Homo sapiens: one gene and its partners. The protein of the gene in region 1 interacts with the protein of each later gene in a pairwise test. Each region holds a gene or a part of one and is shown in the gene's direction. Other genes may lie near its edges. The genes, in order: CDK5RAP2, TRIM37, CLIP4, TBC1D4, PTN, SPAG5 and EXOC1.

The links.
Region 2: the proteins of CDK5RAP2 (region 1) and TRIM37 interact in a two-hybrid assay, tested with the Homo sapiens proteins (one large-scale study listed by BioGRID and IntAct).
Region 3: the proteins of CDK5RAP2 (region 1) and CLIP4 interact in a two-hybrid assay, tested with the Homo sapiens proteins (one large-scale study listed by BioGRID and IntAct).
Region 4: the proteins of CDK5RAP2 (region 1) and TBC1D4 interact in a two-hybrid assay, tested with the Homo sapiens proteins (one large-scale study listed by IntAct).
Region 5: the proteins of CDK5RAP2 (region 1) and PTN interact in a two-hybrid assay, tested with the Homo sapiens proteins (one large-scale study listed by BioGRID and IntAct).
Region 6: the proteins of CDK5RAP2 (region 1) and SPAG5 interact in binary tests that used the Homo sapiens proteins (3 or more experiments, as listed by UniProt).
Region 7: the proteins of CDK5RAP2 (region 1) and EXOC1 interact in a two-hybrid assay, tested with the Homo sapiens proteins (one large-scale study listed by IntAct).

Annotation. Positions count from the first base shown.
Region 1 is NC_000009.12:120,440,668-120,444,167, reverse strand, and holds part of CDK5RAP2 (CDK5 regulatory subunit-associated protein 2), read left to right. Parts: intron 1-425; coding exon 426-548; intron 549-3,500. UniProt on the Homo sapiens protein: Potential regulator of CDK5 activity via its interaction with CDK5R1. Negative regulator of centriole disengagement (licensing) which maintains centriole engagement and cohesion. Involved in regulation of mitotic spindle orientation.
Region 2 is NC_000017.11:59,096,881-59,100,380, reverse strand, and holds part of TRIM37 (E3 ubiquitin-protein ligase TRIM37), read left to right. Parts: intron 1-3,500. UniProt on the Homo sapiens protein: E3 ubiquitin-protein ligase required to prevent centriole reduplication. Probably acts by ubiquitinating positive regulators of centriole reduplication.
Region 3 is NC_000002.12:29,118,415-29,121,914, forward strand, and holds part of CLIP4 (CAP-Gly domain-containing linker protein 4), read left to right. Parts: intron 1-2,959; 5' UTR 2,960-2,974; coding exon 2,975-3,107; intron 3,108-3,500.
Region 4 is NC_000013.11:75,479,370-75,483,523, reverse strand, and holds the start of TBC1D4 (TBC1 domain family member 4), read left to right. Parts: upstream 1-1,354; 5' UTR 1,355-1,756; coding exon 1,757-2,254; intron 2,255-4,154.
Region 5 is NC_000007.14:137,228,734-137,232,233, reverse strand, and holds part of PTN (pleiotrophin isoform 1 precursor), read left to right. Parts: intron 1-3,500.
Region 6 is NC_000017.11:28,592,526-28,596,025, reverse strand, and holds part of SPAG5 (sperm-associated antigen 5), read left to right. Parts: intron 1-2,959; coding exon 2,960-3,500. UniProt on the Homo sapiens protein: Essential component of the mitotic spindle required for normal chromosome segregation and progression into anaphase. Required for chromosome alignment, normal timing of sister chromatid segregation, and maintenance of spindle pole architecture.
Region 7 is NC_000004.12:55,895,148-55,898,647, forward strand, and holds part of EXOC1 (exocyst complex component 1), read left to right. Parts: intron 1-1,569; coding exon 1,570-1,753; intron 1,754-3,500.

The DNA of each region.
Region 1 (3,500 bases):
TGCTGGGATTATAGGCATGAGCCACCATGCTGGCTCCTAGCTTGCCATTTGCACTCAATACTGTTTTTATTTTTTGCTGAGACACCAGAGTGCCTCAACTCCAGGTGCTACCTCAAACAGTTGCCCAGGAGACCCTAGGGCCTCTCTCTTCTTGGGAAAAATGGGCACGAATTGATAGAATTCATTTTCTCACTCAGCTTTTTGAGAGCCTGGACTTAAACCATTTCAGACAAGCTGCAGTATATTTATGCTTTTTATGTCCTGTTATGGCAGCTCGATAGATTAATTTTATCTTATAAATTGCATTTTGCCTCCCCAGTGTTTTTATTTTCCCTGTTGTATCTTTGTGTTCTTCTCAGTTGCTTGGCTAAGTTTCAGGTCTTACGGTTTTATTTATTTTTCTTTCTCTTTGTGATTGCCTGTAGCTCAGCCCCCTGTGGGAGCAGCCTACCAGGACAGCCCAGGAGAGCAGAAAGGAATTAAAACCACATCTTCTGTCTGGAGAGACAAGGAAATGGACAGTGATCAGCAAAGAAGCTACGAGATTGGTCAGAATTCAGCCCCTGTGTGTATTGAACAGCTTCCATGTGCCAGGCACCATTTGGATGTTTTATCTAAAAATTATTACTAAGCCCATAGCAGCCCTCTCAGGGCATTATTATCATTCCAGTCTAACACATGGGAAGCTGAGGTTTTAAGAAATAATTGACCCAGGGTCACCCAGCTGGTAAGTAGGAGAAGAGTCAAGGTACAGTAGGATGTCAGAACCCACCCGTCCATGTGTCAGCATGCTTCTCTACCAGGCAGTGGGCTGGGTTCTGGTGGTTCAACATGAAAAGACACAGCCTGCTCTTAGGGACCCCACAGCTCGGAGGAGACAATCATCCCAACAGCCTGTTAGTATTCAGCGCGGGGCTGCCTGTTGCTGAGGTGTGCTTGGTGTTGGTCCGTGTGCCCAGGAGGAGTGGGTCAGAAGAGAGCCTGAGGCTGAGACTGGGTTTGTGGGGTTTGCCAGGCAGATCAGTGGAAAAGGTGCAGAGATACGGGTGAGGGCAGAGGCAAGTTGTATTCCTTTCTTTTTAAAATTATGAAGTATTAGAAGCATACATAAGCACAAAAGATAATATAACAAATACTCATGTTCTCATTCAACCAGAATGAACAAATGCCTACATTCTTTTTATGTTAGATATTTTTCCCCCTTCATTAAAAAAAATCACTATTAATCCAGATCTAATTCACTCTGTTAGAAATAATTGTCCTCAAGAATCCTAAATTTGTCATGGGATGGCCATGGGGACACCAGTCTCTGGAAAAATACTGAGTTGTGGTATATACACTGTTGTATACTTTTGCAAGGTCCAGAGTCACTGCAGTGAACACATGGTCACATGCTTCTGCGTGTTCTGGGCTTTGAGGAGAAAGCTACTCTACCAGGCAATAAAGTCCCCCTTAGCTGAATTGTGGAAAGTTGTAGAACTATAGTATTTCTTATAATGCAAATATTCATAAATGGTCTTGGGGACATCTTTTGATTTCTTCTTGATAGTTATTAATACAGACTTCTTAACTAATCGACAGCTTCCCTTTCCCTGTCAGTACTTCCCTTCATTACTGAATGTCTTTCATTTTTCTGAATGTGCTTCCAGAACTTTGTATGTGAATTGCATCTGCCTGAACTTCCACCTTTTAATTGTTGCGCAGCTGAGGCTGGGTGCTGCGTGTGACATCTTCATTGCTGTTTCTTTTTCACAAGGCCCTTGACAGATACTTGGGATGTGAATAAAGGATTTTACAGGCATCTTGGCCTTCACATTGAGGGTTAAGAACTCTCTCTCTCTTTGCTCATGCACCGCGGTACAGGAGATTGGATTGCAGGAGTGTTACTTCGGGAAGCATCATTCAGAGTGTTAGAGGCAGACTGCCAGGCTTTGAGGAGGGGCTCTACTGCTTACCTACCCTGAACCCTAAGCAAATTCTTAAGCTCCCTAAGCCTCAACTTCCTCTTCTGTAAAATGGGGGTACTAGTGATGCCTCATAATTACTTAAGGAAAGTCCTGGGAACTAATCTTTATTTCCATGAGTGAACACGCTTCTTGCCATGAAGTACAGACCAAATTCTATTATCATGAGGTTATTACAGCAAAGATATTTTCTTGTCTTGGAGGGTGATTCACTGGAAAAAAAGCCTTATGGAGAGATATCTCCCTCCCCAGTTCCTCTTTCTCTTTCTTGTTCAGCCAGAAATACTTGGTGAGTACATTCTCTGTCGCAGACCCTGTGCTAGATACTGGAGAAACAGACATGGATGACACGGTCTGCACCCTCAAGGCTCTTATTGAGTAATTATCATAACATTGTGTATAATAAAAATACTGTATTAGGAATGCTTCCTTTAGGTCAGGTAGCAGCTGCTTTCTGAAATGAAATGCCATACTTTATGGTATTTGCATCATGAACAGATACAAGAGTGTACCTCAAGTCACAAGGAGCAGATTGCAGAACCAGAAATTGGGACATGCAGTCTGATGAGGATTTGTGTGTGAATTTCTTTCTGAGAGATCTCCTAGGTCACCCAGTCCAACCCACGTTGTTGCTTTTGTAGCATTTTTCCAGGCTGGCCTTCGCACGCACGCCTCCGGTGAAGGGCATCTCCTTCTATCTTGGAATGGTTAGAGGATGTTTGTGTTACTTGGATTCCTTCACTACTATGTGCCAGACACTGTGCTAGCCTTTTTTTTCTTTTTGCAGATTTTGTTCCATATAATCCCTAAAAACAAACACACACACACAACTTTTCAGTGATGTTCTTTCCATTTTACAGATAAAGCTACTAAAGCTCAGAGAGGTCAAGTAACTTGCCTATGTGACAGAGCCAGAGTTTGAAACCATGTCTGTTGAATTTCAAAGACAGGTTTTTCTACTACATTCCGCTGCCCCTTAAGTATTCAGACAGCTCTCTATATTGAACGGAACTTTCCCTGGGCAGCCAGCAGTGTGGCACAGTGGTTAAGAACAGAAGCTGCACTACAACCATATGAGACATCTCTTTCTACATTTTAGACACAGGGGAAACTGAGGCTCTTGGATAGTAAAGTCACTTGCCTCAGGCTGTGTGGCCTTCAAACTTCATATTCTTTCTGCTGTACTACTCCACTTCTGAAACAAGTTTGACTGCATCTCTAAGGGTTTAGCTATTACTAGCTATAAGGAAATATTTCCTGGCAGTGTTGTGAGTGAGTGAAACACCTCACTAAAGGGGATGTCAGGGCATCTCCTGGAAGCCATTAGACATGGAAATGAGAAGACTGTCACGTGTTGTGGATATTCAGAATTACCACTCTTTACTGTTGCTTCACAGAATCTCTCAATATTTCTCACACTGGCACTGACTTCTGGTCTGGGTTAGGTTCTGTACTAGACGCCGAGAATGTGAAAATGAAAGGCCACATCTCTGCTGTGAAGAAACGTGCAGTCTGGTGAGGGAGAGCTACATTCAG
Region 2 (3,500 bases), on another chromosome or scaffold:
CAATTTGTTTATGCATTCACCTGTTGATGGGCATATGGCATGTTTACAGTTTTTGCTATTACAGTGAAAATTGCTGCGAACATTCGTGTACAAGAAGCTTTCTTTTCTCTTGGGTAAATAATTAGTAATGGAACGGATAGAGATTATGTGGTAGATGTGTGTTTAACATTTTGAAAATTGCCAAGCTATTTTCTAAAATACTTGTATCTGGGAGCTAAACAATGAGCATACATGGACATAAAGGGGGAAATGCTAGACACTGGGGACTTCAAAAGAGGGAGAGGAGGAGAGGGATGAAGGTTAAATTAAAAAAAGGATTGGGAGGCCGAAGTGGATGGATCACCTGAATTCGGGAGTTCGAGACCAGCTTGACCAACATGGAGAACTCTGTCTCTACCAAAAATACAAAATTAGCCAGGCCTGGTGGTACATGTCTGTAATCCCAGCTCCTTGGGAGCCTGAGGCAGGAGAATCACTTGAATCCAGAAGGCGGAGGTTGTGGTGAGCCGAGATCGCACCATTGCACTCCAGCCTGGGCAACAAGAGCGAAACTCTGTCTCAAAAAGAAAAAAAAGGAAATAGTTTTATAATTTTACATTCTCACCAGAAGTTTATGAGAGTTCCAATTCCTCCACATTAATGCTAACAGTTGGTGTGTTCGGTTTTGTGAATTTTAGCCATTCTCAGGGACGTGTAGCCATTCTTACAGGTATCTCCTTGTTTTAGTTAGCGTTTCTCTGTTGAGTAATGATGTTAGCATCTTTTCCAGGAGTTATTTACCATCCATATGTTGTCTTTGGTAAGGGGTCTGTTCAGTGCCCCCCATTTTGTGCTAAAATAAATATAACAAAATTTTCCATTTTACCCATATTTAAGGGTACAGTTCGGTGTCTTTAATTACATTCATAATGTTATACAACCATATCACTATTTCCAAAATCTTTCATCACCCCAAACAGAAAGTCTGTACCCATTAAAAAAAAAGAAAAAAGAAAATAAACATAAGTAAACATAGAAAAGGTATATTAAAAATACAGTATAAAAGATAAAAAATGGTACACCTATGTAGGGCAGCTCCATTCTAATCTTACGAGACTACTGTAGTATATGCGGTCCATCATTTACCGAAACATCTTTATGTGACACATGGCTATATACCACTTTTTGTTTATCCTTTTTCTTAAGTTTTTTTGTTTTTTGAGACAGAGCCTCGCTCTGTCGCCAGGCTGGAGTGCAATCGTGCGATCTCGGCTCACCACACCCTCCACCTCCGAGGTTCAAGCGAGTCTGCTGCCTCAGCCTCCCGAGTAGCTGGGACTACAGGTGTGCGCCAGTACACCCAGCTAATTTTTGTATTTTTAGTAGAGATGGGGTTTCACCATGTTGGCCAGGATGGTGTCGATCTCTTGACCTGGTGATCCACCCTCCTTGGCCTCCCAAAGTGCTGGGATTACAGGCGTTGAGCCACCGCGCCTAGCCTATTTATCCATTTTTATCTCTTGATGGACACTTGGGTTGTTTTCACTTTTTGGATATTGGATATTGTTAATAGTTCTGTTGTTAACAATTATCTGTTTGAGTTCCTGCTTTCATTTCTTTTGAATATATATCTAGAAGTGAAATTGCTGGGTCATATGGTATTCTGTTAATTTTTTTTTAATTGTGGTAAAATATACCTAATGTAAAATTAGCCTTTTTTTTTTTTTTTTTTTAAATGAGACAGTGTCTCACTCTGTTGCCCACGTTGGAGCACAGTGACACAATCATGGCTCACTGCAGCCTCAATCTCTTGGGCTCAAGCAGTTGGCCTGCTTCACACTCTTGAGTAGCTGGGACCACAAGTGTGTGCCATCGTGCCTGGCTAATTTTTTTATTTTTTGTAGAGACAGGGTTTTACTTTGTTGCCAAAGCTGGCCTCAAACTCCTGGGCTCAAGTGATCTGCCTGCCTTGGCCTCCCAAGTGCTAGGATTACAGATGTGAGCCACTTGGCCCAGCCAAATTTGCAATTTTAACTGTATTTTTAAGTGTACTGTTTAGCGGCATTAAGTACATTCACATTGTTGTGCAGCCATCACCACTATCCACCTTTAGTACTTTTTCATCATCCCAAACTGAAACTCTGTACTTGATAAACAATAAATTCTCATTATTCTCTTCCCCCTAGCCCCTGTTAACCACTATTCTACCTTCTGTCTTTACATTGACTATTCTAAGTACATCATATAAATGGAATCATAAAATATTTTTGTTTATTTCTACCTCTCTATTCTGTTCTATTAGTCTCTATTTCTGTTCTTATGGTAGTACCACACTGTTTTGATTACTGTAGCTTTGTAGTAAGTTTTGAAATTAGGAAGTGTGAGTCCTCCAACTTTTTCAAGATAGTTTTGACTATTTGGCATCCCTTGAGATTCCATGTGAATTTTAAATGCAGTTTTCTACCAATATAAAAAGTACCATTGGAGTTTTAGTAGGGATTACATTGATTCTGTACATGCCTTTGAGTAATATTGCTGTCTTAACAATATTAAATCTTATGATCCTTGAACATGGGTGTCTTTCCATTTATTTAGGACTTCTTTAACTTCTTTGAGCAGTGTATTGTAGTTTTGCACGTATAAGTCTTTCTTTTTGTTTTTTATTGTTTTGAGACAGGATCTCACTGTCACCCAGGCTGGAGTGCAGTGATGCGATCATGGCTCACTGCAGCCTCAACTTCCTGGGTTCAAGAGACCCTCTTGTCTTGGCCTCCCAATGCTGGGATTATAGGTGTGAGCCACCACACTCAGCCTCCATGTATGTCTTTCAAATTCTTGGTTTTTTTTTTCCCTAAGCATTTTATTCCTTTTGATGCTGTTGCAAATGTGTTATTTTCTTAATTTCGTTTTTAGATTGTTCATTGCAAGCTTATAGAAATGCCAGTGTTTTTTGTGTGTTTGTCTCCTGTAACTGTTGTGTTTATTAGCTTTAACAATATTTTGTGGACTCTTTAGGGATTTTTACAGATAAGATCATGTCATCTGCAAAAAGATAATTTCACTTCTTTTTTAATTAGGATACTTTTTATTTCTTTATCTTGCCTAAGTACTCTGGCTGGAATTTTTAGTACCTGTATTATGTCAAATAGAAATGGTAAAAGCTGGCATCCTTGTCTTTTTCCTGATCTTAAGGGGAATTTTTCCTGATCTTAAGGGGAAGAGTTTTTAGCCTTTGAATCGTTGACTATGATTTTTATGAGTTTTTATATATGGCCTTTATCAAGTTGAGGAAGTTCCCTTCTATTTCTATTGAGTATTTTTATCATGAAAGGATATTGGATTTTGTCAGATGCCTTTTCTGCATCAATTGAGATGATCATAGTGGGGGTTTTCCATGAAGTGGTTTATTACATTGAATGATTTTTGTAGTTGAATCATCTTTCTATTCTAGGAATAAATCCCACTTGGCCACAGTGTATAATTTTTTAAATAGTCTGTTGAATTAGTTTTATTGGGATTTT
Region 3 (3,500 bases), on another chromosome or scaffold:
TGAGTAGGGTGAAATTCCTATAGAAATCAGAGTTTGGGGAATTTGATTCTAGCTATTGTTAGTATCAGAGGCACCTGTTCTGTAGACAGTTGATTAGTGCCAATTTTTTTTTTTTTTTTTTGAGATGGAGTTTCGCTCTTCTTGCCCAGGCTGGACTGCAGTGGCGGGATCTCGGCTTACCGCAATCTCTGCCTCCCAGGTTCAAGCGATTCTTCTGCCTCAGCCTCCTGAGTAGCTGGGATTACAGGTGCCCTCCACCATGCCCAGCGAATTTTTTGTATTTTTAGTAGAGATGGGGTTTTGCCATGTTGGTCAGGCTGGTCTCGAATGCCTGACCTTGGGTGATCCACCTGCCATGGCCTCCGAAAGTGCTGGGATTACAGGTGTGAGCCACCATGCCTGGCAGGGCCAATATATATATATATATTTTTAACCTGAGGCTTACTTTATAATCAGTTATCACCAGTTAACCATAGTTGGATTTGGAATGAAAGTGTGTACTCAGTTCAGATCAGTATACTTAGACATTTGACCAAGAGTCCAGGTGTTGTAGGTCTTCAGATCCAGGAATTGCTTTTAGGAAATGAATCTGAGACTATAAGGAAGTTTATAGGGGTACATAGTTTCCTTTGGGAGGACAAAAGGTAGAATGTTAAGTTTTTCACGAAAATAAGGAAATGTAACTAGAGAAAAACGCAACAAAGACAAAATACAAAGAATGTTCACTGCATTGGTCAGGTAATATTGTAGCTTCTTCTGGACTTGAAGTATCTAATATGTAAAAGAATGAAGCTGGTTACATCTGATTGCATGAATCCTCTTTCCACTTTGAATCTAAGCTTTGAATATTAGTTAAATATGTGTAACACACTATTCTAGCTCCTGTGGTGACTGCTAGTTGTGTACGATAGAGTTCGTATCTTTGAGGATCTCAACAGTTTACAAGGAAATGAAAGGTGCTCTGGGGATCACTTAAAATTTTTTTTTTTGAATGGGAGACTCCACCCTTTGAAAGGGAAGTCATGTGGTGACTCCTCTTAACCGACTCAGACAGATATCCACTGAATCTTTTTGCTGAAGAATTAAGAGTATAAAAACATGTCTGAGTCCCAAACCGTGATTATAGTCAGATTAATTTTCCTAAAACAGCTTTAATCATGTTACTCTCTTTAAAAAAATCAGTAGTTTCCCAGTGCTCATGAAAGTAAGTGGTTTGGTCTTTGATGAGGTATTTGCTCCTCAGTACAGCCCTAAAAAGCCCTTACAGCCTCACCTCTGACTGTTTTCCTAGTCATATCCCAAGTTCCAGCCTACTGTTCTTTTAATGGGATCCCCTTTTATATTGATACCTATTCATCATTCAAGACTCATCACAGATGATACCTTCTTCACCATTTATGATTCTTAGAAGCTCCAACTGCAAATGTTCCTGGTACTTATGTGATGGAGCAGATCCCATTCTGCCTCATAATCTATAGTTATTAGTGGTATTTTATTCACCTTAATAGATTGTAAACTACCTAAGAAGCATGGACCATCTGTTAACTCATTTTTGTATTTGCTGAAACATCTAGAATAGTGTCTTGTATATAGTGGTTCCTTAATAAATACTCATTACTGTTTGGAATTGATAGTATTTGAGGAAGATCACCGCTGCTCTATAACACTAATTCCATGAACTTGTCATTTTCCTATTTATGTGGCAAGGTTAATGTCAAAATGCTTCTAAGTATTTGGTGGTAAGTAATTTTAGCATCCAAGAAAATGTGAATACCTTAAAATAGTAACAACTGGATTAGGTTACCTAATATATAACATCTATATCCATATAAGCATACGATTTTTGAGGAAAAAGAAAGCCTCCTACTTTTTACCAGTTCCTGCCAGTATTAAGAAAACATGAATCAAGTTAGGAAGACAACAGTGAGCTCAATGAAATGACTGTTTTATTGTAGTGGGGAACTGATGGTAAGGATAATTGAGTTAGATATAGGGTTGGTTAAGTAGAACAGAGCACACATTAAGTAGTAGCTAGTATGGTGTTGTCTACTACCAGATCAAGCCATTGATTACCTATTTTTATTCTGTGCTTTCTACTGAAATAATCTAAACTCATTTTTCATTTAGTTTTATAATGTTTTGCTTACATTTTAAAAACAGGAATTCATGATACTTCAGATAGTAAAGATCGGATACAAAAGAAACTGGAAGGCTTTTAGCTTCATAAGTTTGGTTTTACTAGCAGTTTCTCTGCTTTCTACATCATTTCTGAGATGTAGGCTAGGGTGTAGTACAAAGTCTAATTTAGAGCAAATTTATTCTAAGCACTCATGTTTTCTGGGAAAAAGAGGTAATATAAGCCATGTGCTTTAAAAGGCATGGCTTCCATCTTTGGCCAGGATAGAACTCACATACCTCGGACCTTGTTAAGTTGAACAATCTTAGTAAACTCTTAGATTTGTAAGAGGGATATGATTAATTTTCAGTAAAGTTTTCTGGGATAGAAAATAATGGAAACATTTTAAGGTAGATTATCTTCATGTGATGAGCACATGGCATGAGCTATTGGATGACAAATGATGTAACTTGTGCCAGTGTTATGGGAAGTTAAAGATCCATCTACAAGGGTTAATACGCCCTTGTTTGTTACATGAGTAGGAGGATTTCACCCATTTAGATTAGCTCAGCATTTAAAGTGTTTTCACCTATTTTATATTCCTTTTGAGCTTTGTCTAGAGAGATTACATGTGCTACCGACTGGTATAAGAGGTGGTGTGAAGCAATGTATGCCTTTTAACAACAGTTTTGCCAAAAGGAATTTTTTCCCTTTCATAAAAGATCCTTACTGAAAATGTCAGCAGATTTGACGTCAAATAACTTTTAGGCAGTTATTGAAGGCAGTCATTCTAAGTTGCATACAAATAAAGTAGAAACACTTTTTTTTTCTTTCTTATTATAGGTGGCTTTCTAGAAGATGACCATAGAGGACCTTCCAGATTTTCCATTAGAAGGAAATCCTTTGTTTGGAAGATACCCATTTATATTTTCTGCTTCTGATACCCCAGTTATCTTTTCCATTTCTGCAGCACCAATGCCTTCAGACTGTGGTATGTGAAGTAGCTGTGCTTATTTTCTGTGAACTGGTAACTTGACTTCTCTGTTACGCCTTTTTTGCACTCATAGTCTTTCTTAGAACCATTTTTATGGTTTTCATAAAATTGCTAAAGTTTTCCTTTTTCAAAAATACAATTGCTTATTGCTTTTTCTGCTTCTTAAGCTAAATGCTTTATTTCTGCTGTCAGCATTTATATTATGTTAAAATGTTCATTTTAAGCATCATGATGGATTTAGAGGACTTTATTTTTAGAAAGCAATGGTGCTTAGATATCTAGCATTCTTCTGCTATTGATGTATTTATTTTGGTTAAATATACTGACTTGCTAAAAAAGCCATGTACTTAGGCAAAGAGGGTAAGAGACCCTTCCCTGGAATGTGAAATG
Region 4 (4,154 bases), on another chromosome or scaffold:
GGGATCTGTGTAACAGAGTTTCTGGGAAGGTTCTAGAAGGTCTCAGTCTACCTTCCAAGAACTTTTCATTGCTTCTTTGAAGACATGGGTCTTTTTGAACAAAGGTTTTTTAAGTGGTTCAACCAAATGACTTAACCTAATCAATTAGTAATGTCTCCATCTTGGAACTTAGATACCTATTAATAAGAGAGCCATCAGAGTGCAACCAGAAATTCAGCATAAGAACAATGGCAGTTGGTTATATTGATCTTAAATAAATAGAAGGGAAAAAGTGGTCCCAGGGCTTTATAAAAAGTGAGAACTCATTAAACTAAAAACCAAGAAACCCGAGTTTTCATTCTTCTTGTAAGCACTTAGGAGAAAGTCAGGAACTTCTGTGTCTTTCTTATTTATTTTGTCTTTACTTCTTACCCAATTCTTAATTATCATTCGGTATGAGTAAAAAGGGAGAATACTTGTCTACCTGTCTTAAAATTACAATGATCAAATTATTCCAAACTTTTTTTTAGTTCTTTGGAAATATGTATTACCACATATATATAAAAGAACAAGAAATCTCTACATTAGCTCTCAACTGGGGATATAACATAAATAAAACATAACTTTTCCATATTTTAAGAAGTTGGCTGCTTTAATAACTAGGAAGATTCAAGCTGTCGATATTATGTTTTAAAGTGAAATTTGGAACTGGAATTTATAATATTGTGATTGAAAACACGAGCGTTTTTTGAGATTATTAGGAAAGATAATTCAGAAATTAATGTGTAGGCTTTAGAAGGAACTGAAACCAAGCAAATACTGTTAAAAAAAAATCCCAGTTCTCCACTGCGAGTGGCCCCCTCTCTAGGGGGCAGCAGAGACGCCCGGGAGGAGACGGAGATCGCGGCGACTCAAGAGAGGCCAAGTGGGTCCGGGCAGTGCCCGCGCCAGGCTCTGAGCTGCAGCCCCAAGGGCGGGGGTCGAAGGAAGAGGCGAAGAGGCGGAGAGGCGGCTTCACGGATAAGCTTTTGCAGGCGACGCTCTCCGCCCGCCGGACGGGAGGCGGAGTAGCAGCCCGATTAAAGAAGCAGCCTGGAAGGAAGGAAGGAAGGAGCGAGGGAGGGACGGGAACGGCAGGAGGAGGAGCAGCGAGCTGGGCTGCAGCTGCGGCGGGAGGAGGAGCGGCCCCCGCGAGGCCACGTTTTGTTTTTGTTATTTTCCACTGGAGTAGTTGCCGGAGCCTTTCCTGAGGACTGACCGCGCCGCAGCCCTGCAGCCCCGACCTTCCAGGTGACAGCCGGTCACCCTGGTAGGAGTCAGCTCCGCCCCAAGTCACCCCCTCCCGCCCACAGCCCCATTCCCCGCCCAGCCACCCAGTGTCTGCCCCAGGCGAGCGCGGCGGCCGCAGCGGGGCTGCAGCGCTGGAGCCGGCGGCCGCGGGGACCCTCGGCGTGGTCCTCTGACCCTGCAAACCCGCGACGGAGGAAGGGGAGGTCCTGCCCGAGGCGCCAGCCCAAGGAGGAGGATGCCCATTTAACCCGCCCTCGCCTGCCGGGCGCTTGCCTCGGTGCCCGCCGCCGGAGCCTCCGAGCCGCGCCCGTGGAAGTGCTGCATGGGGCAGGGCTGCTGAAGCGCGGAGTTCGGGGTCGCGCCGCTCCCAGGCAGGCGCGGGAGCCCGGTGCGGCAGTTGGCACAGTTTCGGCGGCGCCTTCTGCGCGGGAGTGGGGGGCGCGGTGCGCCCGGCCGGCCTCCGCGGTGCCCTGGTGAGGCGAGAGTTATGGAGCCGCCCAGCTGCATTCAGGATGAGCCGTTCCCGCACCCCCTGGAGCCCGAGCCGGGCGTCTCAGCTCAGCCCGGCCCCGGGAAGCCAAGCGATAAGCGGTTCCGGCTGTGGTACGTTGGGGGGTCGTGCCTGGACCACAGGACCACGCTGCCTATGCTGCCCTGGCTCATGGCCGAGATCCGCAGGCGCAGCCAGAAGCCCGAGGCGGGCGGCTGCGGGGCGCCGGCGGCCCGAGAGGTGATCCTGGTGCTCAGCGCGCCCTTCCTGCGTTGCGTCCCCGCGCCGGGCGCTGGGGCCTCGGGGGGCACTAGTCCGTCGGCCACGCAGCCCAACCCGGCGGTATTCATCTTCGAGCACAAGGCGCAGCATATCTCGCGCTTCATCCACAACAGCCACGACCTCACCTACTTTGCCTACCTGATCAAGGCGCAGCCCGACGACCCCGAGTCGCAGATGGCCTGCCACGTTTTCCGCGCCACAGACCCCAGCCAGGCAAGACAGGGGCTCGGAGGCGCGGGGGCGGGCTCGGCCTTGGGGGATCGGGGAGCAGGGCGGGAGGGGCGGGGACCCCACTTTAAGGACCGACTGAGGTTTGGCTGCAGGCGCGCGCGCTCCACGTGGCGCGCTCAAGCGCCGGCTGGCCCCTTCCCTGGACCTTGGGAGTGGGAGAGAAGGCGTTCGGGGGCTGGGCGAGCGGCGGGAGCGGCCGGCCGGCTACAGCAGGGACCCGGAGGGAAAAGGACAACGGTCCCGGGATGGAGGGGGAGCTGGCGCGTCCAAGGAGCACGCGTGGAGGAGCGCCCGTCCCGGGAGGACGGCGGTGTCTGGGGTGTGACCGGAGATGGCTTGCTTGCCGTGTGTGTGTGTGTGTGTGTGTGTGTGTGCGTGCGTGTGCGCGCGAGCGCGTGTATGAACGCAGAAGGTTGGGTTCCTAGAGGTCCTCACTAGTTCTCAATCGCAGTCAAATCCTTAACCGGTTTGGCTGGTCGCGTCATCTTCGCAGCAGCACCTGCAGGTCTCCGGTCTGGGAGGCAATTTCCGAGCGGGGCTTAGGGAAAAGTTACTAGACATCGTCAGATTGTCTGCAAAGAAGGATTCTACATTTGGATATTGAATGGAAAGAAGCCCTTTTTTTGCGGTTTTTAAACACACTTATTGGAGGCAGTGTAGTAGAACAGGTTTCTAATATCATTTTTTAAATGTTTTTTTCACTTTTGTTTTTAATATTTTTTTTCCAGAGTCTTCTAAATCTAATTACCAAACAGTAAACTTTACTTCCTTAAAAACAGATATGGTCCTTATGGAACAGGGAGAGGAGAACTTGACTATGCAGTGATTGTGTCTTTGAAAACAGAGTTTTCCCCCTTTAATTTGTAATGAGTTTTCTCCCCGCCATATCAAAAGCTTCCAAAATGCTGTTTTAAAAATGGTTATTTACTGTTTGCACAGTACTTTAGGTTCTTTGGAAAAATAGTGTTGTCTAAATATAAATAAAGTCTCAGGTTGCACCATGTGGCTTTCTTTTGGTAACTGGGAAATTAATCGTAGTCAGATGAGAAAAACATCCTATAAATATGGCTTTAATTTTTTTTATTTCACAATTCTTCTGTCTGTAATTGAAAGACTTAGTTCAACAGTTTTCACAAAAGGCTTGTAGTTGAATTGAAGAAAATAATAGTTCATTGTCTTAGATTTCATCAGTTACTTTGAAAAATAGGTTTTTTTTTTTTGAGACGGAGTCTTGCTCTGTCGCCCAGGCTGGAGCGCAGTGGTGCGATCTCGGCTCACTGCAACCTCCACCTTCCGGGTTCAAGTGATTCTCGTGCCTCAGCCTCCCCAGTAGCTGGCATTACAGGCACCCAACAATCAGAACTCCTAATGTGAAGTTATGTTTATGGCATAACTGTTATGTTTATGGCAAAATATCGTACTAAAATTATTTCAAGATCCTAACCACGATTTAATGAATTTCATTTTGTGAACATTTGTTCAAAACTTATTTTTAGCTTTCACATATGTTAAAATTGGAAAGTTTCTGAAAGCTATTACATTTTATTGTATTACATTTTTCTGGTTCTGGTGGTAAAGAGGAGCCAGTTGCATTTTTCCAGGACTTTAAGGAACTTTTCATGACTCTCGGGGGTTTCTGTTAAAGTTATTTCCCCCCAGCGACATCTGATGCATGACACATTGTTGCTAATCTCATTGATGGTCCTGGCACCTTTAGTTCTCAACAGCTGCTGTTGAGTTCCTCTTGGTCTCATTGGTAGGAAGTCAATTATAAACATTCCTTTATTTTCCTCCATTATATATTTAAGCGTTAGAGGCTGAACTATATAAATATTAATATGTTTAGGCTCACTTCCCCCTTTTAGTCCAGTGGGAGCAGTGG
Region 5 (3,500 bases), on another chromosome or scaffold:
TCACATGTTGACAATGGCTCATTCTCTGTTTATATCCATTTCTGCTTTGCAGCCTCAATCCAGGCAGGGACAAGGGACATGTGGCCCGGGGTGTTATTTGATGTGTGGTGTATGTGTACTTCCTTCTCTTGATTTGGCTCTGTTCAATGTGAACTAAAGTGCCCTACTGTTCACATCAGGGTAGGAATCCTATTGGCTCTCAGAACCTTCTAGAGTAGCCGCTATATGACTTCAATAAAAAAGCACTTGGCTTTAACTAATTATAGCCCTGCTCCAGGCTAATTTGTGACCCACATCTCATAGTAAACATTTCTCTCTAACCTTGAAAGGCGACTAAACTGGGACAGTTTTACCCACAGAGTTTAATCAGGTCTCTATTCTAAAGACAAAGTTTTAAGAAACCTGGATAAATTTCATATACGTATGTTTGTAAGTTTTCTTCTTCATAAAATATTTGTCTTTAAAGATAGACTGAAATTTGACAAGATTCTAATTGGATTTACACTCCTTACTTTCCTTGAGAAATACTCTTTTCTATATAGTAATGGGTTGAACTATTTCCCATTCAAGTATTCATTTATCCACTCCGCATGCAACAAGTATTTCATGAATGCTTGTTATATCTCAGGCACAGAATATACAGTTGCAACATACAGATAGGGTCTCTATTGTCATAGGAAAGGAAAAACACATACCAAATAATTAGAGACAAAATTAATAGTTCAATTCTAGTTTTGGAAAAATCAATGGGAGGCACAATGAGAGTGTCTGTGCACGGAATCTGCTTATCTGAGAGCTCTTGGAGGGCTTCCCTGAGAAAATGCAGTTGAGGCTAAGATTTTAAGGATGACTAGGTGCTGACTGTGCAAATTGGGGTAGTAGGAGAAGGAACACTCAGGCCAAGAGGAAATAATATGAAAAGGATAAGATGGAAAGAAGCAAAGAAAAGTCAAAGAACCGTCATAAGGAAGATGGGTGAGACATATTATCACCATGTTATGGATCCATTTATTTTCACTAAAGCTTTACTAATCAGCTTTTACACACAAGGCCCTGTGCCATGGGTTGGAGGTACAACAGAGAGTAGAAACTGCACCCTCTCGCAGCTTGTATTTTGGTGGCAGTTACAATGCTAGAGATAGGTGCTCTAACAAGAGCAGGAAAGAGAAACAACTTCTAACTCACACTGCGAGGTCAGCAAACTAGAAGTGATGTCAATGCTGGTACCTGAAGGATGGGAGGCATTAATGAGACATGTCGTAGTGGAAGTGTGGGGTTGATGAAATGAAGAGTGAATTTGAAGGCCAGAGACTAGAGAGAAAAACAGACAAAGAGAAAAGATGTATTTGGGGAACTAAAATAAGCATAAGTATGAAGATGGAAGTAAAGAGGGGCAATGTGAATGTTTCAGTTTCTTCATCTATTACGTAAGGGCGTTGGACCACGTTCTTTCTAGGTCATAGATTTTGTGATACTATTTTAAACCCATCATGTATACTAGGTAAAGATTGAGAGGTTGTTAATAAGTTTTTGAGGCCACAGAGATAAGCAGTGACAAAGCTCATTTAGTCTTTCAGTTGAATGTACATAAAAGTCACAAAAAACTGCTTTCGATTGGAAGCAATATTACTGACCTGATTTTTTTTCACAAAAATTTGAACACTTTGTTATGTAAAAAACTAAACTGACCTTATTGCAAATATGAATTCTTCCCTCCTTCCACTACTTTTTACTGAAGACTCTTTATTTTTCTCTTTAGATTGAGCCCAGAGTAGACTCAAGTTCTGCAGGGTGTCCGGACAGTACCATGATTACTTGCCACTTGTGTCAGAAGAATAAGTTGATTGACATTGTACAGATTTAATAAGCAAATTGTTGATTTCCTGGTATTTAGCAAGTTGTCAATTAAGGAATAAGACACCAATGTCAGGTTCAGGGTTACCTAAGAATGTGCTCTTGCCTTTACCAAGAAGAATTTGGTGACAGATTCCTATTCCCAAAGTGTTCTTTGAAATGGACAACCTTACATTAACAGATCAAATAGTGTCCAATGTTCAGAATAATTTTAAGTTTTATGAAACTTTTATACAAAAACCTGGTTAGTATGTCATCTGCTCAGACTTATGTATGAAATAGGAACATGTTAGCCAAAATATGAAAATTGCTACTTAGATATCCACTCTACTGGAGACCTAGAAGATAACAAGTTCCTGAGGGTTTTCCAGGAAGGGACATGAGGAAACTGAGAGAGGGAAAACCAGAGTTAGGTCTCAGTTGAAATCCTACATTGTTCTCTGAAGATACCATCCTAATATACAGCTGTTGCCTAAAATGTTGACCAAAAATTGGGAATTATTACATTTTCAGACACTGAATAATTTTTCGGAAATTACACATAATGTCTCCTTTGATCTAAAATGTATCTTTCACTTGGAAATTCTGGTCATTACACCTCTCATAGGGTGAAAGAAAGATATTTGAGAAAACAAACAAAAATAGAGAGCGTGAAAAGTTAAATTTCTTTAGTATAGAAATGGGGCAAACTTGGGAAGTCATGAATGGAATGAATACAATTATGGACAACAATTTAGCCTGGGTTTAGAAACTGCTGACCCACTTGCATATAGTGTACCCTTGAAGTTTGAGTAAAGGAAGATTAGGACAATTACATTGAACAGAAATACTACTAGTGTGTAATGGACTTTGGAACCTACTTGAAGAGGTCATGAAGATAGTATATAGAAATGGAAAAGTTTCCAGCTCTACTTAAGTATGAGCTGAGAAATATACAATATTTCTAGTTGGCATCATATCATATCTTCTGTCTTCATAAGTCTTATGGTCCTCTTGGACACAGGCTGTATGCTCCAGTGAACAATGACCTCATCCCTGTTGGTCATTGTTTTTGTCCCAGTGACCCTATGTTGCTTAGCACATTCATTGACCTGCTCAATCAATATGCCTTGATAATGATTAAGGATTTTAATTATACAGGGTAATGATCTCTTGTTCTTGCTCTATTATCACCCTAATGATAAATGCTAACCTTAATTGAGCACATGCTATTGTATCATGTTCTGTTCTCAGTAGATTTTATAGAACAGGTTTAATTTGGATATAAACCGTATGCTTACTATCATATGCTATGGTACTTTTCATATGCCTATTTAAAGATGAGTAATCTAAGAAACAAATACATTAAGTAACTTTCTCAGTGTCTCACAGTAACTTAATGATGTGGCCAGGATTTAAACTTCAGCAGTCTGACTCCAGAGCCTGTACTTAACCAGTATATTTCTGCCACTACTATGGACCAAATTGGAGAAGTGGCTCAGAAATATTTAGCAATATCCCCTCACTTGCTAACCCAGTGATTCTGACCATTTTTGTCTTTGGAGCCAAATTAGATGTGTTCTATTCTACATTGCATTCTCCTGTTAGGAAAAGAGAAGTGGAAAGATGGTTGAATGGAAAAGAATGGAGTCTTTTGATTGAAATCC
Region 6 (3,500 bases), on another chromosome or scaffold:
ACCCAGGCTGGAGTGCAGTGGTGCCATCTAGGGTCACTGCAACCTCCGCCTCCCAGGTTCATGCAATTCTCTTGCCTCAGCCTCCTGAGTAGCTGGGATTACAGGCATGTATCACTACGCCCAGGTAATTTTTGTATTTTTAGTAGAGACAGGGTTTCACCATGTTGGGGGTCAGGCTGGTCTTGAACTCCTGACCTCGTGATCTGCCTGCCTCAGCCTCCCAAAGTGCTGGGATTACGGGCGTGAGCCACCGCGCCCGGCCTAATTTTTTTTTTTTGAGACAGGATCTCACTCCTTCATCCAGGCTAGAGTGCAGTGGTGTGATCTCGGCTCACTGCAACCTCTGCTTCCCGGGTTCAAGCAATTCTCCTGCTTCAGCCTCCCCAGTAGCTGGGATTACAGGCGCGTGCCACCATGCCTGGCTAATTTTTTGTATTTTTAGTAGAGGCGGGGTTTCACCACATTGGCCAGGCTGGTCTCAAACTCTTGACCTCAAGTGATCCACCCTCCTTGGCCTCCCAAAGTGCTGGGATTACAGGCGTGGGCCACTGCACCTGGCCTGTTTTGTAAATTTTTGATTATTAATAGATATTAATTGTTTGAAGCATTTGAATATATAAATGTATAAGGAAGAAATATTTCTGGTATCTTAGATAAATGTCATATTTGACAGTTCTTTCATACATCTCTTTATGTGTGTCTATTTTGTATATATGCACACACACACACACACACTCATCTTTATATTGTCTTTTTTTTTTTTTTTTTGAGAAGGAGTCTTGTTGTATCGCCCAGATTGGAGTGCAGTGCCGCGATCTTGGCTCACTGCAACCTCTGCTTCCCAGATTCAAGCGATTCTCCTGCCTCAGCCTCCCGAGTAGCTGGGACTACAGGCACCCGCCACCATGCCCAGCTAATTTTTGTATTTTGAGTAGAGATGGGGTTTCACCATGTTGGCCCAGCTGCACTCGAACTCCTGACCTTGTGATCTGACCGCCTCAGCCTCCCAAAGTGCTGGGATTACAGGTGTAAGCCACCATGCCCTGTCTTTTTTATTTTTTTTTTTGAGACAGGGTCTTGCTCTGTTACCCAGGCTAGAGTGCAGTGGTGTGATCTTGGCTTATTGCAACCTTGAACTCCTGAGCTCTAGCAGTCCTCCCACCTCAGCCTCCTGAATAGCTGGGACTACAGGTGTGAGCCATCATACCTTTTAATAATTTCAAAATTAAAGTAAGATACATGAAATTACAATAAAACATAACAGCATAACAAATTACTATAAAGTACACATCCATGTAACTAATACCCAGGTCAGTAAGTAGGACAGTACCAGAATATCAGAAGCCCTTTTTAACCTAACCTTGGTTTTGTTTCATCCACTAATATAAATGAGAAATTTCATATGTTTGATTATTATTATTATTATTTTTTGAGACGGAGTCTCGCTCTGTTGCCCAGGCTGGAGTGCAGTGTCACGATCTTGGCTCACTGCAAGCTCCACCTCCCGGGTTCACGCCATTCTCCTGCCTCAGCCTCCCAAATAGCTGGGACTACAGGTGCCCGCCACCACAGCCAGCTAATTTTTTGTATTTTTAGTAGAGACGGGGTTTCATCGTGTTAGCCAGGATGGTCTCGATCTCCTGACCTCGTGATCCGCCCGCCTCAGCCTCCCAAAGTGCTGGGATTACAGGCGTGAGCCACTGCGCCCGGTCTGTTTGATTATTTTTTTAATAAATAATTGGACTTTCTATCTAAAGCTTCCAGAATAGTTTTTTCTTCATTGTAGCACAGAAATTTTATAATTATGTGTCTAGCATGTATCTTTTCTAGTCAGTCCTGCTTAGAAACTGGTGAGCCATTTTAATGTGCAAACTCAGGTCTTTCATTAGGGTAGTTTTCTTCTAATATTTGTTAATCAGCGCCTCATGTATATATGTTCTCTTCTGGAATTTCTTTTATTTAACTGTTAGGTATCCTGGGTTTATCTTCTAATTCTCTTAGCTTTTTCTTCAGATTTACATTTCTTTATATTTTTATCTTTGCTTTAAGATATTTCTTCCACTTGTCCAGGCCAGTAATTCTAGTTTCAACTCTAATAATTTACTCTTTCAATTCATTTTACTGACATTTTTTATTTAAAATAATATTTATTATTTCTAAAATGTCTTTGTGTGTGTATTTATGTTGTAGTTAAAGCTTAAGTACTCGTTTTTTTTGTTGTTGTTCAGATTATCATCTGTGTCTTCCAGCAGCTCTGTTTTGTTAGGGTCTACCTTTTTTATTTATTTATTTATTTTTTTTTGAGACAGGGTTTTGCTCTGTCACCCAGGCTGGAGTGCAGTGGCACGATTTTGGCTCACTGCAACCTCTGCCCCCTGAGCTTCAGTGATCCTCCCACCTCAGCTTCCTGAGTAGCTGGGACTACAGGCACACATCAGCACCACCATGCCCGGCTAATGTTTGTATTTTTAGTAGAGATGAGGTTTGAACTCAAGCGATCCACCTGCTTGTGGCCTCCCAAATGCTGAGATTACAGGCGTGAGCCACTGCGCCCAGCCGAGAGGGAGAAGAACTTGTACCAACTCTAGATTCTGACAGAGCTTAAGCCTTCACTCACACCCTATGGACCCCTCCTATCTGTTCATCTAGAAGTGCGTTAGAGTTCAGAATGGAGATGAGTGGGGTCACTTTCAAGCTACCATCTGCCCACGATATGGATCTATATTCTCAGCCTGTTTATAATGTAGGCTGGTTCACTTGGAAGGACCCAAAATGGCTTAGCAGCTTTTCTTTCCCTACTATTGGGTCTCTATATGAGCAACAAAGATTAGCCAAGTTCTTACCTAAGCAGAGGTAGTAAGAATTCTTTTCTTTTTTGAGTGCACTATCTTGCACCTGTAATTGTATGTCGGGAACTGAATTGACTGCCTTAGACAACTACTTTTGTTTCCTTTGGCAGGAAGGCAGCAACAACTCATCTCCAGTGGATTTTGTAAATAACAAGAGGACAGACTTATCTTCAGAACATTTCAGTCATTCCTCAAAGTGGCTAGAAACTTGTCAGCATGAATCAGATGAGCAGCCTCTAGATCCAATTCCCCAAATTAGCTCTACTCCTAAAACGTCTGAGGAAGCAGTAGACCCACTGGGCAATTATATGGTTAAAACCATCGTCCTTGTACCATCTCCACTGGGGCAGCAACAAGACATGATATTTGAGGCCCGTTTAGATACCATGGCAGAGACAAACAGCATATCTTTAAATGGACCTTTGAGAACAGACGATCTGGTGAGAGAGGAGGTGGCACCCTGCATGGGAGACAGGTTTTCAGAAGTTGCTGCTGTATCTGAGAAACCTATCTTTCAGGAATCTCCGTCCCATCTCTTAGAGGAGTCTCCACCAAATCCCTGTTCTGAACAACTACATTGCTCCAAGGAAAGCCTGAGCAGTAGAACTGAGGCTGTGCGTGAGGACTTAGTACCTTCTGAAAGTAACGCCT
Region 7 (3,500 bases), on another chromosome or scaffold:
TGTCTTATTTTTGATAAGATCTTATCTCTCATTTATGAACACTGGTCAATAAGATCAATAGACAGCATTTATAAATGAGTGCTTACTGTGTACCAGGCACAAGTCTGGGCACTTTGCACACATTATGTCATCTAATCTTAAACCCAGCCCCTCAATAAGGTAGATTGTTTGAGAGGTGAAGTTACTTTCCCCAGGTCCACAGTTAAAAAATATGGATCTTGTATTCAAACCCAGAAAGTCTGGTTCTAGTACCTGCAATCTTACCACTACCTTTTCTACTGCATCTGTTTTTCACCTCACAGTTACCAATACTGATGAAGTAGAACATTAGTACAGATAATATGAAATAACTGACTATACTCTTAGGGTTTTCTTATACTAATGTCAGAAGCCTAGAGATAATTATTTTTCTAATCCATGTGTCATATGGTTTTTGAGTTATACTCCCCAAATCTCAACACAATGAAATGTTAGGTAGAAGCTGAAATAATACAAAAGTATTTGGCAGTGTAATCATTCCTACTGAGTAGATTTAGATCCCTTCAGAATCATAGAACCATAATTGAATCCGTGGATCGTTTTGAACCTAAGATTCTGTCTGCATGAAACATTTCTTTCGCATTTTGTCATATAATGCACAAGCAGTTTGTGGAACTAAGGCTAAGTGACTAATAAATATATGGAAAATTAAATAATGCAAATCCATATGGAAATGCCTATCCTCCCTCTTTGTTTCTGTACTCTGAAAATAGAGAGTTTGTCTATCCAGACAGAAATTTTAGACTGACGAAAATTGGAAATGACTGTGGTTCTCAAACTTGACCACGTGGCCACCAACCAGAAGTTACCCGGAGGGATCCTATAGGTGCTCTGGAATCTTCTCTCCTGTAACCTAAAATCAGTAATTGCCTTGTACTCATCTTTCATAAATGGTAGAAATGTGTGTTGACTGTTTTTACTTTGTACAGAGACTTGAAGTTCACGGCCTTGATTGTATTTTGTTTTGTTTCATTTTATTTTTTGAGACAGTCTTGCTCTGTCACCCAGGCTGGAGTGCAGTGGCGCAATCTTGGCTCACTGCAACCTCTGCCTCCCAGGTTCAAGCAATTCTCATTCCTCAGCCTCCCAAGTAGCTGGGATTACAGGCATGCACGACCCCACCCAGCTAATTTTTTTTTGTATTTTTTGTAGAGACGAAAATGGCCAGGCTGGTCTTGAACTCTTGGCCTCAAGCGATCCACCCACCTTGGCCTCCCAAAGTGCTGGGATTACAGGCATGAGCCACCGTCCCCAGCTTATAGATGGTTTTAAATAATCTGTATTATTTTGATTTTCTTAAACTTACTGTAAAATGGTTTTATTATCTATAGAATTAGTTTTTCTTAGTTATCCTTGTTTTGATTCATCTTCAATTAGTAAGCATCCAAAGTGTTCTAGGTACCACATAATATCCTGCCTCTATGATATCTATGTATATATCTATATCTCCATCTATATATTTTGTTATGATTATATGTAGTTTTAAAGTTGCTTGGTTATTTATCTCCCTTGCTCTCTGCCTAACTTTAGAGTAACCAAATAAGGCAAATGGAAGAAGTAAAGATCTCAAAAAAGAGTAAAGTTGGAATTCTTCCATTTGTTGCTGAATTTGAAGAATTTGCTGGACTTGCAGAATCAATCTTCAAAAATGCTGAGCGTCGTGGAGACCTGGATAAAGCATACACCAAACTTATCAGAGGAGTATTTGTTAATGGTAAGCTTTTGTTATGTTCTAAAGAATTGTTATAGCTATTGTTTTTATTTCTGGTAACTAAGAAATCGGGAGCAGATAGGTTCATTATTTTGTATATCTTATAATCTTTTTTAGGTTTTCTAACATTAAAGATTTCTTGAATTTGGAAAATAAAACCTATTTGTATTCATTATGAACCACTTACATTTTAGGGTTTATGTGGGCTTATGACTATGCAAAATTGAAAATCTTTTTTTTTTTTTTTTAAGATGGGCCTCACTCTGTCGCCCAGGCTGGAGTGCGGTGGCATGATCTTGGCTCACTGCAACCTCCACCTCCCAGGCTCAAAAGATCCTCCTACCTCACCCTCCCAAGTAGCTGGGACTACAGGTGCACCCTACCATGCCCTGCTAATTTTTTGTAGAAAATCATTTTTTAAACACAAAAACATGACCTTCCAGATTACATTTGCATTTTAACAAGTGGTCTTCTAGAGATGATGGGCTGTGATGTGTGTGTAACCTTAAGCAAATCAATTCACTTATTTAGGACTCAGTTTTTCATATCTACTATACAAGGAAATTAGTACTAAAATACAAGAGAAATTAGTGCTGAAATACTGTAATTCGCTTTCTTCCTGTGTCAGATCCCACAATTAAGTTACAGAAAAGTCTGGACATGTCATTTCATCTGAAATAAATGATCTGATTGCATATATTCAGGAATTGTAAAAGCTAAAAAATTGATAGAAAATGGAATCATCTCACCAATTGTTGCCCAGGTTGGAGTGCGGTGGCATAATCTCGGCTCGCTGCAACCTTCACCTCCCGAGTTCAAGCAATTCTGCTGCCTCAGCCTCCTAAGTAGCTGGGATTATAGGCAGGCATCATCACGCCTGGCTAATTTTTGTATTTTTAATAGAGACAGGGTTTCACCATGTTGGCCAGACTTGTCTCAAACTCTTGACCTCAAGTGATCTGCCCGCCTTGGCCTCCCAAAGTGCTGGGATTACAGGCATGAGCCACCGTGTCCAGCCTTGATTTTTTCTTTTAAAATTCAAAGTAGCTTTGCTTTATCTGATTCTAAAGTAATGTGGCTAGGCACAGTGGCCCACACCTGTAATCGCAGCACTTTGGAAGGACCAGTTGGGGGATCGCTTGAGCCCAGGAGTTCAAGACCAGCCTGGGCATCATAGTGAGGCCTTGTCTGTACAAAAAAAATTTAAAAAATTAGCCAGACGTGGTGGTGTGTCCCTGAGTTTCAGCTACACAGGAGGCTGAGGCAGGAGAATCATTTGAGCTCAGGAGGTCAAGGCTGCAGTGAGCCTTGTTCATGCTACTGCACTCTAGCCTGGATGACAAAGCCAGACCCTGTCTTAAAAATAAATAATAAATGAATGAATGAATTCATTATTCGTTCTTTATAAATCTTTATAAACTAAAACTTATAAAACTTAAGAACAGACAGATATTCCTTTAATTGGATAAAAAATCTATCTCAGGCCTAAAGGTTACATGATACTTAACTGCAACAGTAGAGATATTCCCTCTGAAATGAATTTAAAGCAGAAGTATTGTTAGATCCTTTATTATTTAGCATTGTTATTGAAGTGCTAGCCAGTACAAGACCTGAAACATAAATAACTATTTATCCCCAAAAATCAGCGAATAGAATTTTCAAATCAAGAAGAAAGTAAAGATCATTTTTAATCTTGTTGTACAGAGATAATGTTAAATTTTTATTCTTCCAAACTTTTAAATTCCCTGTC